Homo sapiens: one gene and its partner. The protein of the gene in region 2 purifies or fractionates together with the protein of the main gene of each other region. This does not show direct contact. Each region holds a gene or a part of one and is shown on either strand. Other genes may lie near its edges.

Region 1 (10,973 bases), on a different chromosome or scaffold from region 2:
GTATTAGGTTATACAAATTTTTAAGTATATATTTATTGGGAAAACTGAGTAGACACTATGAGTGGCATAGTTTCCAATCCTCCATAACACAGTTGTGAAATCAGAACTTACCCCAGAGGGTCTTTGAATGTTACCCCATACCAAGCCAAGCCATCTATTACCCAGAACTGTACTGAAAACATCATTTTGATAGTTAATTAACATGGAACTTTACATCTTTCTTTCTCTCTTTCTCATTCTTTTTTCATCTATTCCCCAGCATAGGGAAGATTAAAAGTGGCAAACTAGAGGGATGGTGGAATGTTAGAAGCAAGCAGAAAGACAACTAGCAGGTAGGGTGACATTAGGGAAGAGACAGAAAAACAACCAAAATCTAACACACTAATCTACTAATATGCCATATATTAATGGGTACTTGTAATAATGATTATTGAGCCATCCCAACTAAATTAACTTGTATTTAACTTATACTAATGTATCACTTTTTTTTTATTATACTTTAAGTTTTAGGGTACATGTGCACAATATGCAGGTTAGTTACATATGTATACATGTGCCTTGCTGGTGCGCTGCACCCACTAACTCGTCATCTAGCATTAGGTATATCTCCCACTGCCATCCCTCCCCCCTCCACCCACCCCACAACAGTCCCCAGAGTGTGATGTTCCCCTTCCTGTGTCCATGTGTTCTCATTGTTCAATTCCCACCTATGAGTGAGAATATGCGGTGTTTGGTTTTTTGTTCTTGTGATAGTTTACTGAGAATGATGATTTCCAATTTCATCCATGTCCCTACAAAGGACACGAACTCATCATTTTTATGGCTGCATAGTATTCCATGGTGTGTATGTGCCACATTTTCTTAATCCAGTCTATCATTGTTGGACATTTGGGTTGGTTCCAAGTCTTTGCTATTGTGAATAATGCCGCAATAAACATACATGTGCATGTGTCTTTATAGCAGCATGATTTATAGTCCTTTGGTTATATACTGGTACCAAAACAGAGATATAGATCAATGGAACAGAACAGAGCCCTCAGAAATAACGCCGCATATCTACAACTATCTGATCTTTGACAAACCTGACAAAAACAAGAAATGGGGAAAGGATTCTCTATTTAATAAATGGTGCTGGGAAAACTGGCTAGCCATATGTAGAAAGCTGAAACTGGATCCCTTCCTTACACCTTATACAAAAATCAATTCAAGATGGATTAAAGACTTAAACGTTAGACCTAAAACCATAAAAACCCTAGAAGAAAACCTAGGCATTACCATTCAGGACATAGGCATGGGCAAGGACTTCATGTCTAAAACACCAAAAGCAATGGCAACAAAAGCCAAAATTGACAAATGGGATCTAATTAAACTAAAGAGCTTCTGCACAGCAAAAGAAACTACCATCAGAAAGAACAGGCAACCTACAAAATGGGAGAAAATTTTCGCAACCTACTCATCTGACAAAGGGCTAATATCCAGAATCTACAATGAATTCAAACAAATTTACAAGAAAAAAGCAAACAACCCCATCAAAAAGTGGGCAAAGGACATGAACAGACACTTCTCTAAAGAAGACATTTATGCAGCCAAAAAACACATGAAAAAATGCTCACCATCACTGGCCATCAGAGAAATGCAAAGCAAAACCACAATGAGATACCATCTCACACCAGTTAGAATGGCAATCATTAAAAAGTCAGGAAACAACAGGTGCTGGAGAGGATGTGGAGAAATAGGAACACTTTTACACTGTTGGTGGGACTGTAAACTAGTTCAACCATTGTGGAAGTCAGTGTGGCGATTCCTCAGGGATCTAGAACTAGAAATACCATTTGACCCAGTAATGTATCACATATTATTCTCCAAAGATGGCCACAATAATAACTTCTGACTATATGCTCTTCTATAAAGAGACCTTGTCACTTTCCCATACACGGGTGGAGTCTAAGTCCCATCCCCTCAAATTTGCATTGATGAATAGAATATGGTGAAAGCGAGGCTGTGTGACTTCTGAGGCTGGGTCATAAAAGGTGATACAGCTTTTGTCTTGTTCACTGAAACACCTATGCTGGAGCCTTGAGCCACCACATAAGAAATTCAACTACCTTGAGGTCACCATGCTAGGGAGGCCAAATATAGGTAGGTGTTCCAGTTGATAGCCACAGATGAGCTCCCATCTTAGATGTCCAGCCCAGTAGAGTCATCAGATATTGCATCCCCAACAGACATCTGACTGCAACCACGTGAGAGTGCTCTAACATGAGCTGCCTAGCTGAGCGCAATTAACCAAAAGGACCATGAGAGACAATACTAAATTGTTGGTTTAAGCCATTAACTTTTGGGTTGATTTGTTCTGCAGCAATGGTAAATGGAACAGCTTATTTTTAAAAAAGTGCTATGTACATAGTTCAACCACAATTCAAAACTTATTCCCGAGTATGTTTTTTGTGCTAGGAATGTGATAGGTAGGTGCTTCAAATAAATTATATTATTTAATAATCAAACAACTTTTTTGAGTAATATCTTCATTTAGTGAAAAAGGAGATGTAAAATACTTTTTAAAAGCTCTTTTCTGGCCGGGTGTGGTGGCTCATGGCTTTAATCCCAACACTTTGTGAGGCTGAGGTGGGTGGATTGCTTCAGTCCAGGAGTTCAAGACCAGGCCTGGGCAACATGGAGAGACCCTGTCTCTACTAAAAATAAAAAAATGCCAGGCATGGTGATGTACACCTGTGGTCTCAGCTACCTGAGAGGCTGAGACACCTGAACCTAGGGGTGGGAGTGATGGGGGATCGGGGAGGAGGAGGTTGCAATGAGCTGAGATCGAGCCACTGCACTCCAGCCTGGGTAATAAAGCAAGACCATGTCTTAAAAAAAAAAATGCTTTCTTGCATGCAACTACTTCTTGTGTTATGAATGCAATGTGTCATTGATTCTCTTTAAGGATAATAACTTCATTTTATTTCAAGAATATAATATAGCTATCTTCAGAATATTACATTATCTTTATTTAATTAAAGACTTTTTTTCTCTCTCTTCAGAATCTCCCTGTTATGCAGTTCTTCTCCCCCTGGACCATTATTAGGTGATTCTTGGTTGTTGGTTCATATTTTAAATAAGGATCAACAATAGAGGTTCCCACTAAGAATGGTATTGCACCTAGGGGGCATTTTTGGAAATTTGTGAGGCATTATCTATTGTCACAGTGTTTGGGGATATTTTTGGCATTTAGTGAAAGGGTACTAGGAATGCTAAACATCCTATCATTATTGGATACACTGAACGGTCCTGTGCAACAAAGAATTGTTCTGTGTCCTGTATAATGTTTAAATGTCCTACTAGATATTTATGGTGGTAAAAAATCTGTTTGTAATTACTAAAATCTGGAACAAAATTCCATTTTTAGATAAACTCCAAATATTTTTGCATAGTTTTAATATACATTAAATTTCCCAGGCTTGTACCTACTATATAAATTAATGGAAGATTTTACTTTCTTCTCTTCAGAACTTTACCATTGGTCACCATTTTGGACAATCATTTGGACATTACTGATGACAATCTGCTCATGCTATTTAAAATGACAACACAATGTTCCTGTATCAGTCTACATTCATGGTTGCCACATTTGTGGTGATTCTCTGTTTAGGTGCAGGCATCTGATGACTACATTATATATCCTAGTATAGCTGTACTAAAGCATTTATGTTTTGAAATATATATAATTTTATTATAAATCACCTCCCTCTTATTTCTCCTCTACAGTACATTAGCACATTGTTGATTTTTATAAATTATAGGTATAGTTAGGTAAATTATAATTTTCATTGCAGGAAAATAAAGAGTACGTAAGAAGTAGTTAGAAAAAGGGAGTTGAAATTCATAAAGAGACAAAAGTGTCTGGAGAGACACAAAAAGAAAAAGAGGAAAATGTCCAATCATTTAAGTTTTCCCCAAGGATTTCTCTGTCTGTTGGGATGATGGAAGTTACTTAGAGCATTGCCTTACTTCTCTTTCTAGCCCAATGATGACTCTAGGGGTATCTAGTGACAGTTCATGTAGTTCCTTTAGAGAGGTATTTTCCTGGCTCCAGCATAGGAGGATATGCCTGAGCCAGCAGCTCTGAAGACTAGGGAACTGGTTCAGCTATTCCAAGCCATTTAATTAATTACCCTGCTGACTGCCCCAGAGTCTGTTCCCAGTCTTCACTGTCTGTGATCCTGGGGTTTTTTCCATGGTTCTGCTTAACTCATCGTTTCAGCAGTTTTGTCTGTTATATTTGTGTTTTGGGGTCTTTTGCTCAGTTGGACTGTACATTTAATCTTATTCCACCTGTGGGATATTATTATTTAACAACAAGTTCCTCAATGCTGATTCCACTCCTCCAGTTTCCAGTGCTGCTGCGGATTGATTTTTACATTTATTCTGCCATTTCAAAGAAACTTTGGGTGGAAGTGGATGTAAAGGCATATCTTAATTAGAGCTTCATTCTGAGCCTTTACATAAAGGAAATATTCTCCTCCTATGATTGGTACATTAATATTTTTATTGATTAGGTATCAACTTTGCTGTAGGCAAGCCACTATAACGAAATTCAACTGTCTGACTTCAATTTGTTTTGTTAAATAAATTACTTTTAAAAAGTGAAAAAATGCAGAAAACTTACAATCCATATCAAGTAAGGCACGAACAGATTTAACAAGTTCCTTAGATTCAAGCGCCAGCGTTGCTGGGATGCTACGTCCATTCCTTCCCAGTGGTGTGAGGGAAGTCTGAGAAGCTAACACAGCTCTTCTTTCACTATGAAGGCAATAAAATAAAGTTGAACTTACTACACAATAAACAACATCTATCTTTACTAAATCTGAAGTTGTATCAGTTATAGATTTGTACAAAAATATTTATATTTCTGAGGAAATTATTTCATATAACCAAAATTGAAGTAATTCACATAAAACAATATTTCTGTTTTCAATTATTTACGACATAATAAGTAGAAATATTTTAAAATTAGGTTGACTTCATGTATGATAAAGAAGTAATAGAAGGATGACCTGTCTCCTAAATCATTTGTTGGGCTTATTTTGTGAGTGCTTCTCTTTTGCTAACATGATATAATTTTATTTAGTTCTGTATAAATTCAAATTAAGCATATAAACATGAATTTGTTAAAATACATTTATTATTACTTCTAGTAATATTAAATATAAATTCAATATATGTATTTGGCTCCTGAAATTATCTCTTAAATTATTCCATTTTTTGCCTCGAATCAAAAACAGCCTAGAGCATTTGTATCACTTTCAAAAAATGCAAATGTCACCTAAAATGAATGCATTCTGATCTAATTAAAAATTAAATGTTTTCTTCAAAAAATTACACTAAAACTTACTTGAAAAAAAAATTTAAACTGATGACAAAATCATCATTATTTATACTCCATCTTCCTAAGCATAATGATATTAATTCACAAAGGGTAACAAAAGCATCAGTTCTCAAATTCAAATACATAGCCTTTATTCTGTGTTGAATGACCAGGGCCAATATCCATGTAGAGGATATGCTATATTGAAATGACTGCACCAGTTTTTACTAGTGTTTAATTTACTAAGACACCATGAAATGTTGCGTGATGTAGCTATTTAAAGTTGTCTTTTTTTCCATGAAGCAGTTTAAGGCAAGGGCAGGCTCTGGCTTTTAAATAGTCATTTTAACCTTAATTTTTAAAACAAAACTTTTGAATTATTAGTCAAGGTAAAACTAAGACCTTGGAAAGCTGAGGGTGGGTGACACACTTAGCCCATAAAGAAATAAATGTGATTACTGATTATTTTAAGATCCTTACTGAGAGTAATAATCATGAAATTCACAGAGTTTTCTTGTATCATAAGCAGCAAGGAGAGTAAGAAGTTATGTCAGGTTCCTTCATCATAAGAAGTAAAACATTACTTGAGTTTAGAAGTGAATTATAAATATTCTTCTAAATTAAAAAATGCTATGTGGACACCAAAAATATCTTCACTTATTAAGCTGCTGTTTTCACAGTAAAGGGTAGAGTATTTATTTACTTTTTGAGACAGGGCATCACTATGTTATCCAGGCTGGAGGGCAGTGGTATGATCACAGCTCATTGCAGCCTCAATCTCCTAGAGCTCCTGGGCTCCAGCAATCCTCCTGCCTCAACCTCCCAAGTAGCTGGGAATATAGGAATGCACCATCCCATCTGGCTATTTCTTTTTTTTTTTTTTTTTGTAGAGATAGGGTCCCACTGTGTGCCACTATGTTCCTTGTCTCAAACTCCTGGGCTCAAGTGATCCCCCTGCCTCAGCCTCCCAAAATACTGGGATTACAGGTATGCACCATCACACCCAACCTCATTGAGTCTTCCTGTTTCTGCAAGCGTATATTGCTAGAAGTAGAAGATGTATCTAGGACTAGTGGCAGCTATTATGAGAGCAGAAAAAAATTACTTTGGAAATGCATAAACAAGAATCTTTCTTTTGTAAATGTCTTTCATCATGTATCAAAATGACCATAAACTTGTGGTTTGAAATAAATAAATTTGATTAGTATGTTTCCAGCTTCTAGTAAGAAACTTTAAATCCAAAACATATTATGAATAATGAGACAATCGAGGTATATTCTCCAAATATATTTCTTTTATTTATAGCTACTGAAAGATGAAAACGAAAGAAAATGATTGCATGAATATGTTTTCCAAAATTCTGTTTGCCAGAACAACTAACCTGCTGGGTTGAGACACTTTTAGTAGTGAACCTGTGACCAGTAACTTTGATTCATACGCAAGACAATTACAGAATTTTAAGTTAATCTCATCTTTATAGAATTTTTGATAAAGACAGGATAGGTGGTTTCTACCATAATTTTAGATTACAAGGTTACAATGATTGACTAAATACCTCCAGGAATTTCTTTAACAGAGATGGGACACAAAACAATATGTCCTTGCATCTATTTCCATATGATGGCATCCAATGGGAGTTATGTAGCACCTTAGGACTATTTAAGAGATTTTTAGTATTTGAGTCACAATGACCAGATGAAGAATTTAATCACTACCCATATTCTGCAAAAAGCACTTAAATTTTCTTACCTTAAATTTGATAAAGGAGTAGAATTATCAGAAAATACTTCTTGAATAGCCTAGCAACAAACAAGATGGTGAAGGAGATATATCAGTTTGACAGTTTTTAAAAAATATCTTTTCTTCATTAATATTTATAACCTCCTCTGTCCACGGATTAAACTGATGCTTCTATTATGTAGCGGGGGTGCAAACAATTGAACTAACATGCAGTTTTACTCAGAAATATAACAGCTATGAAAACATTTCTTTATAAGGTAAGTAGTTATCAAATAATGTTTATGCATTATCAGGATTTTTGGTAAAGTATTCATTAAAATAGTATATACTTGGAATCCCATCACCTTGTCTCAATTATTTCTCTAAACAATCTATAAAATGTTAGCCAGTCTTTTCATCATGTATGCAGTTCTAAATCTGACCATAAGCCAGCATTGCTGCTTTGAGACTAGAGAATGTTTCACTAGGTACCAAATACAGTAACATTTATCTATATGCCAGTTGCCTATATATTTTTTAAAGATGAATGTAATAGAACAGAAAAACTTACCTCTACAAAATGAAGAAGCTTTTCAGTGGATGCCTCAAAAGTTTTTCGAGCCATTTCTGATTTTCGTAATTGGCAGTCGAGTACCATGATTCTCTTTTTTAAATCCTGAACACTTTCCTGCACAGAGATATCAAAAGGAGCATTTACACATTTCTTCAGTTTTACATTACTGGTCCCTATTTTCAGTTTTTATGAACTAATATTCAATATTACCAAATTATCTTTTTCTCTTACTGTACATATGTTTTGATTTTGGGGGGCATGTAACTAACTGCATATTTAAAAGTTAATTTGCACAGAGATACTGCAAGTTTTATGAGATAAGTTGTATATGAGTTTATTGATTCTTATAGTAAAATACATTTAAATTAGTTTATGGTTTTGTTTTGTTTTGTTTTTGCAATGTGTCTTACCAGATGCTGACAGAAACCTCTACTAATTTAACATAACTAAAAATGCTGGATACACACACACACACACACACACACACACACACACACACACACACGATGTAAGACAAAGCTAGCAAGGAAGTAAAGGAATTCCATGGAGACATGCAACAGCGATGCCAAGTGAGCCCACTGGGGTAAGAGAGCACTGAAGCATTATTTGTTCGGAGGGTATATGCTGATCCCTGGTGGCCTACAGTTTGGGGTTTCAACAGTCACAAATGGAAAACAGAAGAAACTCAATGGGTGAACTGGGAAGAAGTAAACTTCACAGAGGTAAACAGTGTTTTGATGTTGGCTCAGGTGACTTGAGTAAAAAAGTTTCTCCTGAATAATTCCTAACCAAAAGTCCCCATTCACACAGGTTTGGGGCCAGAATTTACATTATCTGTGTGGCCTAAAAAGCCATATGCTGAAATTTTACTTTAAATTGGTCCCAGGCTAGCAGAAGCAAACTCAAAACTCTGGAGAGATATTTCTAAAACTCAGAGCTCAAAGAATTCCCACTTATAATGCATTGATAGAACATGATCTCACAGACACAAACAAAAATCACTAAACATATGAGAAAATAAGCTCTATGAATGAAAGCTAACTGAAGGAAATAAAGTACAGTATCAGATCTATAAAGACAGCAGATATTTAAGTGAGCAGATACAAAATATAAGGCAATTATGTTTAATATGTTTTTAAAAATAAGAGGGAATTGAAAGTATAATACACAAGAAACTATTGAAATAGATCCAGATAACATAAAAAATACATCTCAAAAATAAAAATGTAACATAACTAAATTAGAAACTTTATTTATAGATTTGACATCCAGTTAGATACAATTATAAAGAGAATGGGTGAACTTGACAACAGAGGTAAAGAAACTTCTCATAATGGAACAGAAAGACAAAAATTGAAATACAAATGGGGAGAAAAGGTAAAGAGAAAACAGCCAGAAGAAGCTATAGCACACATCCAATCTGAATTACACAAGAACAAATACAAAGAATGAAAGAGAAATCGCTCAGGATAATAGCTTAGTGATTTCCAGAAATGGCAGAAGACATTGCTCTTCGAATCGGGAAGCTCAATGAATCCCAAATAGTACACACTAAAGTAAGTTCACACATGATTCATCATAGTCAAACTGCTGAACATTGAAGCCAAAGATATCTTAAAATCATATAGAAGGAAACAGATTGCAAACAAATGACAGATTGACAGCTGACATCACAAACACGAAATAAAAACAGTGAAAGATATTAAATGCCAACTTAACATTTTAAATGTAGCAAAAATATATTTCAAGAACAAGAGTTGAATAAAGATGTTCTTCAGACAAATAAAATGGGGAGAGCTTATTATCATCAGATCCTCACTACATGAATTTCTAAAATATGTACTCATGAAGAAAGAAACCAAGTGAGAAGGTCTGAGATGTAAGAATGCTTAACAGAAAATGGTAAAAATGGAGTCTATTAAGCAAATGCTGACCACACAAAACAAATAATCAATGTCTAATTTGTGGTCTTAAAAGTAAAGAAAGAACTAAAATACTGACAAAAATGGAAATTAAGTCAGGAGGGATGACTGGATTTGTGTCCATTTTACCATAGAGTGAAAAGGCAAGCCAGAAATTTGGAAGAAGATTTTTATAACATGTAATTTAACAAAGGATTAGTAACCAGAAGAATCACTATACATCTACATGAAAAAGACAACTAATCCACTGAAAAAGGGTCAAAAGATATGAAGAAGCATTTCACAGAGAAACACAAATGCCTAATAAAGAGATAAATATATGCTCAACTGGCTACCAGGGAGGAGGAAACCTTGGTTTATAACATTTATGGGTAGAAATAACCCCATTATAGCTGATTTCAAGCTACCAACCTGATATCACTGTACATTGAGTTGAGAAGAGATGCATGCAATCAGCTCTCATGAGCTAGTGTCAGTTGGTCCCAGCACATCACTGTCTCAAAGCCATTAGTAACCAGGGAAATTCAAATTAAACTGTAATGATGTAACACTTATTACAACTACCAGATTAATAAAATTAAAATAAAACAAAGGGTCAGCAAGTATGCGGGGTAAACAATAATTCTTATTCATTACTGGTGGGAGTACAAATTAGTTCAAACACTTTCAAGCACAAGTAGGCATTACCTAGTAAAGCCAAACTTACAATTATTCAACTTAGCAATTCTACTCCTAGCAGGTAACTATTACACATGTGGAGCAGGATACATGCACTAAAATGTTTTTAGCACCATTTATAACAGAAGAGAACAGAAACAATTGGACTGTCCATCAAATGCAGAATGGATAATTACACGTAGTATATCCACACAATAGAGTACAAGAAACAATAAGAAGACACGAACTAGCTAAAAACTTCAAATAGATGAAATGCAAAAACAAAATGTCGAGTGAAGAAAAGCAGGTCAGAATGATACATAGAGTATATTTCTATTTATATAAAGTTGATAAACAGGTAAAACTAAACAACATATTGTTAAGGAATATATACACAAGTAGTAAAGTTTTCAAGAAAATGGTTAAGAATAAATCCAAGAAAGTGATTATCTCTGAGGGAAAGGGTGGGAGATGCAATTGGAGAGAAACACTGTGGGTCTTCAAAGGTACTAGTAATGTTTTATTTCTTATGTTGAAGGTGAATAAAAACTCCAAAAGGTAAATAAATAAATAAATAACATAAAGAAAAAATTATAATGAAAAATAAATGTACTGTTACAAAAAGAATCTGTTATCTTACAAATAGACACTTGAATTTTAATTCTGTAACATCTTGGTCAATGTCTCTTTAAGCAATCTCATGATTAAAAAAAAAAGGTTTCCTTCTTTTTTTCCA
Region 2 (10,973 bases):
CTGGGCTCAGGCAATCCTCTCACCTCCTCCTCCCAAAGGATTACAGGCGTGAGCCACTGTGCCTGGACAGTTTTGCATATTTTTAATCTTTACTTGAATGGGATAACAAAGTAAATTTGTGAGAGTATATATCTGTTTCTGGCTTCTTTTACTCAACATCATACGTGTGAGGCTTATTCATGCGGATATCTTTTTTGGGGATCACTTTTGTTATACACATAAACATGCCTTTTTTTTCCCTGAACCATCTAAAAGTAAGGTGAAGATGTTATTTAACATATACTTCCTAAGAGTATCCTTTCTGATACAACTACATCATCAGATCCCAGAAATTTAACATTGGTGTAATACAATAACACAAATTTTCCTAACTATCCAAAAATATATCTACTTCAGCTGCAGTCTTCTTTGTTTTCATCCAGGACCCAATTAAGTATCATGTATTGCATTTAATTGTCCTGTGTCTTTCATCTCATTTAATCTGTTAAACAGTCCACTATAGTTTTTCTTTCATGACATTGGCTTTTTTTTTTTTTTAAAGAGTCCAGGCCAGCTGTCTCAAAGAATGTCCCACAATCTGGACTTGTCTAATAGTTTCCTCAGCATTGGATTCAGGCCAATCCTAGGTGATGCTGTGTCCTTTCAGCTCATCAATTCAAGAAATATAGATGGTCTGCTGCTAGACCATATTATTGTTGCTAGATTGTTGTTAGTAGTTCTCAATTTCCTCACCTGCTCTTGGCAGTAAAATCTGTGCTACATACACTCTGAGAGGAGAGAAGTGGCAGAGGTTTTTGGAAGGAAGGGAAAGTTTGATGGGAGCACTTTAGGAGGCTGAGGTGGGCAGACTGCTTGAGACCAGGATTCAAGACCAGCCTGGCAATGTGGCGAAACCCATATCTATAAAAAATACAAAAAAATTAGCTGGGTATGGTGGCACATGCCTGTGGTTGCAGCTACTAGGGAGGCTGAGGTGGGAGGATCACCTGAGCCCAGGGAAGTCATGGCTGCAGTAGGCTGTGATCACGCCACTGCACTCCAGCCTGGGCAACATGAGTGAGACCCTGTCTCAGAAAAAGAAAAAAAAGAAAGCAGTGTGTAAACTGGCATGTGCTTGACTTTTGTTACTCAAAATAGTGTTTGGCTTAAAAAGTAATATATGTACACAGCACAAAATTTAAATGGGGTCTACAATGAAAACCAAATCTCCCCTCTACTCAAATCAAGCAAAACTAGCCAGTTACTTTTAACAAACTTACAAGTTAACTATAGGGGGGAAAACTCCCTCATTTAGATGAGATGCAGAACTGATCAGTTTGACTTTAGGTGGAAATAGCTGATCATTTCAAGTAAACAATCCCCTTCAAATCCTCTTCATCCTATTAATTAATAGCCTTTAAAAATAACTGCTAGCCTCTTCCCAAAAACAAAATAAAAGAAAGAAAATCACACATAGTACACAGAGATTAAATCTAGCCTGGTCCTTGTCTGTAAATCCAAATTTGGAACATTTTACTGAATGCAGTTTACTTTGGCCCTTTATGTTTGTGAGTTATAACAGTGACTGATGAAGGACTGTGAAGATATATAAAAAATGTTACTCCTCAAGAGGGAATGAGGAACTGCCAGGAAGGGCCAAGTAACTGCAGAAGCCACAATGGCCTGGAAGAAAAGTCCATCATCGGGAATCCACTCAGGGCCAGCACCATCAGCTCTGCCCTTCATGCTCCTCGCCCCTAGACAACTTGTGGCTAAAGCAGTAGACTGGAAAAGGAAACTGATAAAGGCAGGCAAGAAAATCCACTTCCTTTGTTTCTCCTTAGTGTGGTGCAGTGGTTCTAAATCCTAGTTGCACAGAAAAACTGAGCTTTTTATAAAAAGTGAATGCCAGGGTTCCATTCCAAACCAAATAAATCAGAATGGGAATGGAGGCCCAAGTGTTGATATTTGTTTTTAAACTCCCCCAGGTGCCTCTATATTGCAGCCGGGACTGGGAACCAGGAGTGCAGGATAGTGGCTCACAAACTTAAGTGTTCATCAAAATCACCTGGACAGCTTGTTAAACAATATCACTGGGCCTCACCCCTAGAGCTTCTCATTTGGTTGATCCTAACAAGTTCCATGATCCTGACGCTGCTGGAACCACGCTTTGAGAACGACTGGTGTAGGGGAAATGACATGGCTTTGGAATTGAACAGATTTCCGTTTTTTTTTGTTTTTTTTTTTTAATGGGACAGAGTCTTACTCTGTCTCCCAGACTGGAGCGCAGTGGTGTGATCTCGGCTCACTGCAACCTCTGCCTCGTGGGTTCAAGTGATTCTCCTGCCTCAGCCTCCAGAGTAGCTGGGACTACAGGCGCGCGCCACCACACCCGGCTAATTGTTTTGTATTTTTAGTAGAGACAGGGTTTCACCATGTTGGTCAAGCTGGTCTCAAACTCCTGACCTCAGGCAATCCGCCCACCTCAGCCTCCCTAAGTGCTGAGATTACAGGCATGAGCCACCGCGCGCAGCCTCAGTTCTGAGCTCTGTTGTCATCTAGAGGTATAACCCTGAGTGAATAACCTCTCTGAGCCTCAATTTCCTCATCTGCAATGTTCCTATGAGGATTAAGATAATGTATGCAAAGCAATAAGCACAATGGTAGGCACATCTAGGAGTTTGACACATGGCAGGGCCCTCCCCACTCCCTGGACACACACAGACCCACAGAGATTGGGGCCACCAGCAACCCTCCACCAAAGACTGGCCCCCACAGTAATGCTTGCACCTGCCTGTCTCATGTCAGCTCTGCCACTGGACTCACCTGCTATGATGGAAAGACTTCAGCTTTGGCTGCAGCAGCACAAACAGCACCACGAGGAGGAGAATGAGCGCCACGGAGCTGGCAGTAGAAGCCACTATAGACAGCGTGGGGACCCCAAGTGATGTGTGGGTGTCTTTATCTATAAAAACAAGCCATCATCAGAAGGGTTTTGTACCCAAATACACAAAACAGCTGATGGGCCCCACAGCTGATCTTGTCAAATGCCTCCTGAATGGTGCAATACAGACATCCTACGGTCAGGGTCATTTCAGGAATAACAGCTTAGAATGACCTATGTATACACAGTTCTTTTGGAAAAGGACCATTTCCCTATCCTGTTTCCTGAATAAAAAATTCCCCTCACTTCCAATCTTTGAGGTCCATCTGACACATAAACTCACTTAACCCTAGAGATTTTACCTTTATAAACCACTTTGATCCCATCCTCAAAAGCTTGAAGTTTGTAAACATCGACAATTTAACTGGGCATGTCATTCCACCATCTTAAGTTCTACCTATGTTCTTCCCAAGTGGCAGGATTAATTTACAGAAACTGGACTGTAATAAAACCTTGTCTTAAGATCCACAGCTTTAATTGTAACTCTCAGGTTGGTTCCCACCCATTTCTGGGGTGTCATGGGTTAAACATGCTCTGGTCTTGAAGCCTGAGTGGGAAGCACAAAGATGGTTATATGACACACTTTCCTGCAAGCAGGTGGATTTTCCTGTCATGCAAGACAGGAGGAAGCAGTAAGGGTGGGAGGTCTTTTGTCCAGCTGGTCTGTAGCTCCATTCAAGGAAAAATGAAATGGACGATACATTAGAGAAGGTATTAGCATTGTGCTCACTGTGAGGGCAGAACATGGTCAAGGGTCACCAACACTTGGCCATGCAAACAAGAGATCCTGAACATCAAACGGGCTTTACAGAGCAGGGCAGATGGCTCAATGAAATGCAATAGGACATGCACCAGCAACCTCAAGTATCTTCCACAAAGACATGAAGACCCAAGGAAGGGAGGCTGCAGAGCATCAACTGGGGCTGGGCTGCACCACAGCAAAGAGTGCTCTGGAGGAAGCATGCTTTGCATCCTGTGAGTTAACAGAAAGCAGAACCCCAGCAGCATCCCTTTTTCATCTGCCAGACTGACCCTCGTTGAGACGGCAGCTAATCTCCATGGCTGGTTTCCACTCGCCATTCTTACACGTCAGGTATTTGTAATCGCCCTTCAACATGTAGCCTTCAGCACACAGGTATTCGATGACACTGCCTGCTGTCAGGGGGTCTCTGCAGGGCCGGGGGTGGCAGATGTAGCCACCATTCTCTGGCTCCGGTGGTAGGGGGCACACTGCAAAGACAGGGAGAGAGCAGGGGTACAGTGGTGAGGTATCCAGTAGGAGTCTGCTCTCAGTGACGCAGCTCTGAAGGCCTCTACAGGAAACACAGGAGGAGGAAATAACCCTTTCCTTGGAGGAACTGTTAACCAAACCCTGGAAACTCAGGTTGCCACTGACAGAGGGGAAGTATACTGGCAACAGGGGAAGTGGCTGCTTGCAACATTTCCCCCTCCCTCCCCACCATGCCTTAAGAGAATTCCATCCATAAATGAACGGCAGACTCTAAAGTCTTGAACCTATAGAGATCTAGACATAATAGTTTTAATAAAGCCTGTATTATGTAATAAAGCCTGTAACACACATAATAAATCACAGTGAAAGGAGGAAAAATGTTGGCCTTGTTTCCACTATCAATGTCAGAAAAGACTCTATTGTATAATAAAAACGTGCACTCTTGGCCTGAGAGGGGATTTCTGATAGATTCCCTGGGAGGCTTCCCAAACCCCCTGTGCATCTTCCATTCTCTGACTATAGTAGTCAATGGCACCACCTGTCTCTATCCCATGATAAATTCCACATTTTCCACTGATATACAGGACTGCCTAGTTTCAAAAGCACCTTCACCTCCCGCCTTATTTGTCCTGACAACTCTGTGAGACAGCTATCGTTACTCTCCTTTGAAGAAGAAGACACTGAGGGCCACAAAAGTTAAGTGACTTTTAGCCAAGCTTACAGCAAGGTAAATGGCAGGCTTGGGGTCACAGTCAAATCTTCTGATTCTAAACCTCTGCTCTTTCCACCAGCAGACATTGCTTCTACCCCATGAGCTGCATGGCCTTTAAGGGGTATGGGTGTCAAGGTTACCTCCCCTTTGCCCTCTTGAAACTGGTCAGTTAGGGAGATGGCAGGCAGTGCCTAGGTATGGTGGGAACCCTGGTAAGTTGCAGTAATGGTAAGTCAGAGGATCTGGAAGGTCTGAGTGGACCTGAGGAGGAAAAGGACAACCTCTGATTCCACTCTGGACTGACACTGCAAAACTGAAGACCCCAGGTGGTGGACTGCCGGGTATTACCAGCCAAAACAGTAAAAGTGGGGGCACTACAGAATCACTGTTTGGAATGTTGGGCTGAGGTAGAATGGCCAGGCAACCATGAATGCAATAAAGACCAAAAGTTTTCCAAAGGAAATTCAATTTTGCTGACAAATAACCTGCCCCCATCCTGAATATCACAAGGACATCTGTATGAGAATAAGAACGGTCGTTTTCTTTTTCTCATTTCCTCTGACAGGCCTGGAGTGACTGAGAGTCACACCACAGTGCCTGACTGTCCAAGATAAGGCAGTTTCTCATCCACGAGAGGGGCAGACCACACCACCCTGCAGCTGTGCCCTCACAGCCTCTCTCACCCATGCCTCTTCTTTCCAATCTACAAATGGCTGTTAAGCAAGCTGACTGCCAGCCAGGTTGGGGAGTGGACACCAAATGGAAAAGAGATGATGGCTCCCTACCCTCAATTTGCTTATCACTTGAGATGGGGAGAAAAGGCACTTTTTCTTTTCTTTTTTTAGGTGATGCCACTAAAAAAAAGATGCCATTTTTAAAAAGCTATTAACAAAACAAAGCTGGGTAGGTGCCACAGGGATCCAGAGAAGTCTGGCAGCTTCTCTGAAACTAGGAGATGAGCTCCAGTAAGCTCCCCCCAAGTCCCCTCTAAGGACCCAACTTGTCCCTATTCTCCTCCACCACCAGAGTCTTGAACAGGAGAAAGAAAAACGCAAACACTCCTTCTGGTGCTCTTTAACTTTGGCCAAGTAGTTCAGAGCGCTGGCCAGCTAGATTTCCAAAGAAACCTCCGCAAACTGCTTTAGCCTTTACACTTTCCCTCTTTTGTTCAGGGCAGCAGGCCTGCCACAGATCTCCCTGACTTACTCCCTGGCTCTCCTTGGACTGTGTCTAATTGGTTCATTTCCGTGGCATAATTAATGCTGAGCACCCCATGGCAGCTCCTGAAAGCAGGCAGGACCCACACACAAGTCCAATGTGCTGGGAAGGACAGTCTCAGGGGAAGAGCTGCTGATTCTAAAGCCACTCCTGCTTTGCTGGGTATCTCTTTCCATAAAACCCACATCTCCACAGAATCTTTGAGCGGGATCCTGGCGGTCACCTAGCACTCATAATAAGTCAAAAAAAAAAAAAAGTGAGGACTGCAAAGAAGTGACTTGTAATTCAGTTTAATTTCAATTCAACTAATACTTACTGATTCTGAGTAGGGGGTCACTGTGCTATGCTCTGAAAAAGGACAAAAATATAAGCACCTCAGGTCCTTCTTGCCAAATAGGGATATGACCATTAAGTGCACACATATATTTAAAAAATCATTCTCTTTATGGCTTCTGGATTAAGGACTCTTTCTCTACTCTGAGTTTATAAACATACTCTCCAGTATTTTCTTGTAATGCTTTAGGGATTAGGTTTTTGTTATCTAAAATACTTTTACAAAACAAAACAAAACAAAAAAAACAGACTCATGGGAAATATACAAGGTATTAAATTCAAAAAGGGTGCACAGTGTCCCGTCACTGGGTTCCTCTTTCCAGAGTCACTGCACCAGTTTCTACCATATTCTTCCAAAGATACTCTATATACAAATTTATTCTAACACATGTCAAATAATGTGATTTGTGCCACAAGAGAGGAAGTTCAAAGCAGGAATAGGGGAGCCTAGGAAAGGATCTCCGAGGAAGTAGCACTTCAGATGGGGCTTCACTTCATCAGGAAGGGAGGTCATAGTTTGAAGTAAATGCACTGAAGTGGGAAAATGTAGGTTAACTTCTGAGAACAGCAAGCAGCCCAGTTTGGCTGGGTTGAGTAATTTTTTAAAAGTCCAAAAAAATAACATGAAGAGTGATGAAACCATCTTGTAGAGGACCTTCCTTACAAAAGGAGATATTTATAATTATAGTCAAAGAAAAGGGGGAGCCGCTGAAGGTTCTTGAGAAGGGTAGCATTATAAGAAAAGCAAATTTATAATTTGATATAAGATGGACTAGAGGTAGGAGAGACCCCTTAGATTATGTCAACATTATAGCAATCCTAGTATTGATACAGGAGCTAGAAAGAAATTATTTAGGCAGATAGTGACGGCAAAAGAGTCCTCAGCAAGGTTTCCCTTTTAAGGAAAAGCAGCCTCAAAATCATTTCTTTTCTAACAAAGAGCAGCCTGAAAAATCGAGCTGCATAGATAAGCAAGCTGGAAGCTTGCACAGGTGAATGCCAGCAGCTGTGCCAATAGAAAAGGGCCACCTGGAAGCCAGGTGTGTTCAGAGTGGAGGCTCCATGTTCCCTTTTCTTTGTCACCACGTGTACAGTAAGGACCAGGCAACATGGTGCCCACCAGGTAGAGAACCCATCTGCATAATAAAAGATTAGGGTGGGACGGCCAGCTATTTCACAACTATGCAAATGGCACACATGGTCCAACCAATCTTTCGTCCCCTATGTAAATGGTCTCCTCAAGCTCATCTATAAAACCTTCTTCATTTAACTGCAGAAGTGCAACCCATTTTCTCTGGGACCCCTCTCTGTGCAGAGAGCTCTTCTCTTTCGCCTATTAAACTTCCACTCTTAACCTCACTCTGGTGTGTCTGCATCCTAATTTTCCATGGCTGTGGGACAATGAACCTCAGATATTACCCCAGACAACAACACCGCTTCAGTATGGCAAAATAAACTCAGTACAAAAATTATTTTATGCCCATCTATGAAGGTCATAGAAAAGAAAAAAGCTGAAGTATGTCATAAGATGCTCCAGGTTCAAAGAAGAAATAAGGATGCCTAAGAAGAAAGGGTCCAAAAAAAAAAAAAAGGCAAGTCATTTTAAGACACTAAGAACATGTGAAAAGGCTGGGTACAGTGGCTCACGCCTACAATCCCAGCGCTTTGGGAGGTCAAGGTGGGCGGATCACTTGAGGTCAGGAGTTCGAGACCAGCGTGGTCAACACGGTGAATCCCCATCTCTACTACAAATACAAAAATTAGCCAGGTGTGGTGATGCACACCTCTAGACCCAGCTACTCAGGAGGCTGAGGCACAAGAATTGCTTGAACCCATGAGGCAGAGGTTGCAGTGAGCTGAGATTGCACCACTGCACTCCAGCCTGGGCGACAAAGTGAGACTCTGTTTAAAAAAAGAAAAGAAAAGAAAAGAAAAAGAACACATGAAAAAATATGATCCTCTTGACCAAGAGCAGAGTCCTGGCCAACAGCAGGTGTTGAAGAGGACCCTCTCAGTGATGCCTGGGAAGAACACTAAAAAAAGGCAAAACCCACATGGCAAAGAAATTGTTCAGTGGCTTCCAGAAGCCACAGTCTAGGCAAGAAACTGTCTTGATCTGTGCACCAGGATCATTCTCTGACAATTCCAGGTTCGCAGAAGGAAGCTCTGTACTTAACTCTGGGAAGACAATGAACTCACCTGATGTGGCAGTGCCACATAATTTTAAAAAGAAAAGGAGAAAGCCAGACAATTTTACAGGGGGAAAAAAAATCAATGAATTATCTTTAGCTTCCTCTCTGCTTTCCATTCTGTCCCACAGCCACATAGGCTTTCAGTGAGCACAGGGAGTGCACACAGTAGGCATTCAGTCAAAGTCCACCCTGGTAACAATGCAGATGAGACGCAAAATGATCTAGCTGATACTTCCACCACCTCCGTCGCCTCAGCCTGACACCCTCAGCAGAAACTAACTGCTGAGGACCCTCACCAGCCTTTCTAAAGGTTCCCTGGTTTTGTTGGTTTTGCAGGCCAACCTTTCAGAAGGAGGCAAATTAAAACAAAACAAACTTTTACAACATTCCAAAACAAGCAAAGCAAAATAAGCTCCAGGAAAGGCCCCAGGGGTCAAAGCATTCAATTTAACAAACAGAACAAATACTTGAGCTCCTTCAAAACAAGGTGTGGAAAGCAGGGAATATAAAGATCAGTGTGACATGCATGCAGCCTCAAAGGGATTAGGGTTGAGTAGGAGAAGGTTACATTTAAATTATCTATAGTGCATTTTTTGTTTGTTTGTTTGTGATGAGTCTCGCCCTGTCCCCTGTCACCCAGGCTGGAGTGCAGTGGCAATCTCAGCTCACTGCAACCTCTGCCTCATGGGTTCAAGCGATTCTCCTGCCTCAGCCTCCTGAGTAGCTGGGACTACAGGCGTGTGCCACCACACCCGGCTAACTTTTGTATTTTTAGTAGAGACAGGGTTTCACCATGTTGACCAGGCTGGTCTCGAACTCCTGACCTCAAGTGATCTGCCCGCCTCGGCCTCCCAAAGTGTTGGGATTACAGGCGTGAGCCAGCGCATCCAGCCCCTTTACTTTCCTAATCAACTTGCTATCACTTTACTCTATGGACTTCCCTAAATTATTTCTTGTGTGAGATCCAAGAATCCTCTGTTGGGGTCTGGATCTGGACCTCTTTCCGGTAACAGAACCATGCCCCCACTACAAGCCTACAACCTAGAGAAGACAGACATGGTCACAGCCAACTCTACCCTAAACCAATGAAGTAAGTGTTAAATGTGACACAAGCTGCTCAAATATGAGCTTTTCTAATAGCCTGGGGTGTCCTTCTGGCTAGGTGATCATTCATCGGCACCCAGGGAGGGTAAGAGCCTGAGGCAAAGAAGAAAAAGAGTAGAAACTAAGGAGAGGAGGAAGGAATGGATGGAAATCACAAACCTAGCACAAAGCTGTCCAACAGAAATATAACATGGCCACAGATGTAATTTAAAATGTTCTAGTAGCCAATTAGGAAGATAAATGGAAACAGGTGAAATTAATCTTAATATTTTATTTAACCCAACATATGAAAAAATATGTTGACTGATTACATCTCAACATGGAGTCAACATAAAAATTCACTAATGAGATACTTTATATTCTTTTTCTCATAGTAGTCTGTACACTTATATAAGAGGCATCTGAATGACAGCGACTCCATCTTGAATAGGGGCTGAGTAAAATGAGGCTGAGATCTACTGGGCTGCATTCCCAGGAGGTTAGGCATGGCATTCTAAATCATAGGATGAGATAGGAGGTCACAAGATACATGTCACAAAAGACCACACCAATAAAACAGGTTGGGCAGAGAAGTCGACCAAAACCCACCAAAACCAAGATGGTGACGAAAGTGACCTCCGGTGTCCTCACTGCTCATTATATGCTAATTATAATGCAGTAGCATGCTAAAAGACACTCCCCCACCATAGCCATGACAGTTCACAAATGCCACGGCTACATAGGAAGTCACCCTATATGGTCTGAAAAGGGGAGGAACCCTCAGTTCCAGGAATTCCCACCCCTTTCCTGGAAATCTAATGAATAATCCACCTCTTGTTTAGCATATAATCAAGAAATAACTATAAATACACTCAGCCGAGTAGCCCATGCCACACTGCTCTGTCTATACTGTCTATACAGCAGCCATTCTTTTATTCCTTTACTCTCTTCATAAACTTGCTTTCACTTTACTCTGTGGACTCGCCCTGAATTCTTTCTTGTGGAAGATCCAAGGACCCTCTCCTGGGGTCTGAATCTGGACCCCTTTCCGGTTACACTTATAGCACACCTCAACTCAGACTAAACACATTTCAAGTTCTCAGTCACCACATGCAGCCACCTAGTAGTGGCTATTGTAGTGGACAGCACAGTCTCAGTGAAGGAGTCCTTGGCCAGCAGTCAGGACAGGTCTGGGGATCTGAAAACAGTGGAAAAGGTTCAGAACCACACGACAGGGCATGAAATGTGAGGCTGAAGATGTGGAAAGAAGGAGGCATTTAG

What was found.
Region 1: the proteins of SUSD6 (region 2) and STXBP4 purify together in Homo sapiens (affinity purification with mass spectrometry; 3 studies listed by BioGRID and IntAct, with this or other methods). This does not show direct contact.

Annotation. Positions count from the first base shown.
Region 1 is NC_000017.11:55,074,877-55,085,849, reverse strand, and holds part of STXBP4 (syntaxin-binding protein 4), read right to left. Parts: intron 7,773-10,973; coding exon 7,656-7,772; intron 7,165-7,655; coding exon 7,115-7,164; intron 4,801-7,114; coding exon 4,667-4,800; intron 4,661-4,666; exon of another isoform or gene 1-4,660. UniProt on the Homo sapiens protein: Plays a role in the translocation of transport vesicles from the cytoplasm to the plasma membrane. Inhibits the translocation of SLC2A4 from intracellular vesicles to the plasma membrane by STX4A binding and preventing the interaction between STX4A and VAMP2.
Region 2 is NC_000014.9:69,696,575-69,707,547, reverse strand, and holds part of SUSD6 (sushi domain-containing protein 6 precursor), read right to left. Parts: intron 4,154-10,973; coding exon 3,956-4,153; intron 2,945-3,955; coding exon 2,806-2,944; intron 1-2,805. UniProt on the Homo sapiens protein: May play a role in growth-suppressive activity and cell death. May be involved in the production of chemokine molecules in umbilical vein endothelial cells (HUVECs) cultured in THP1 monocyte LPS-induced medium. Plays a role in preventing tumor onset.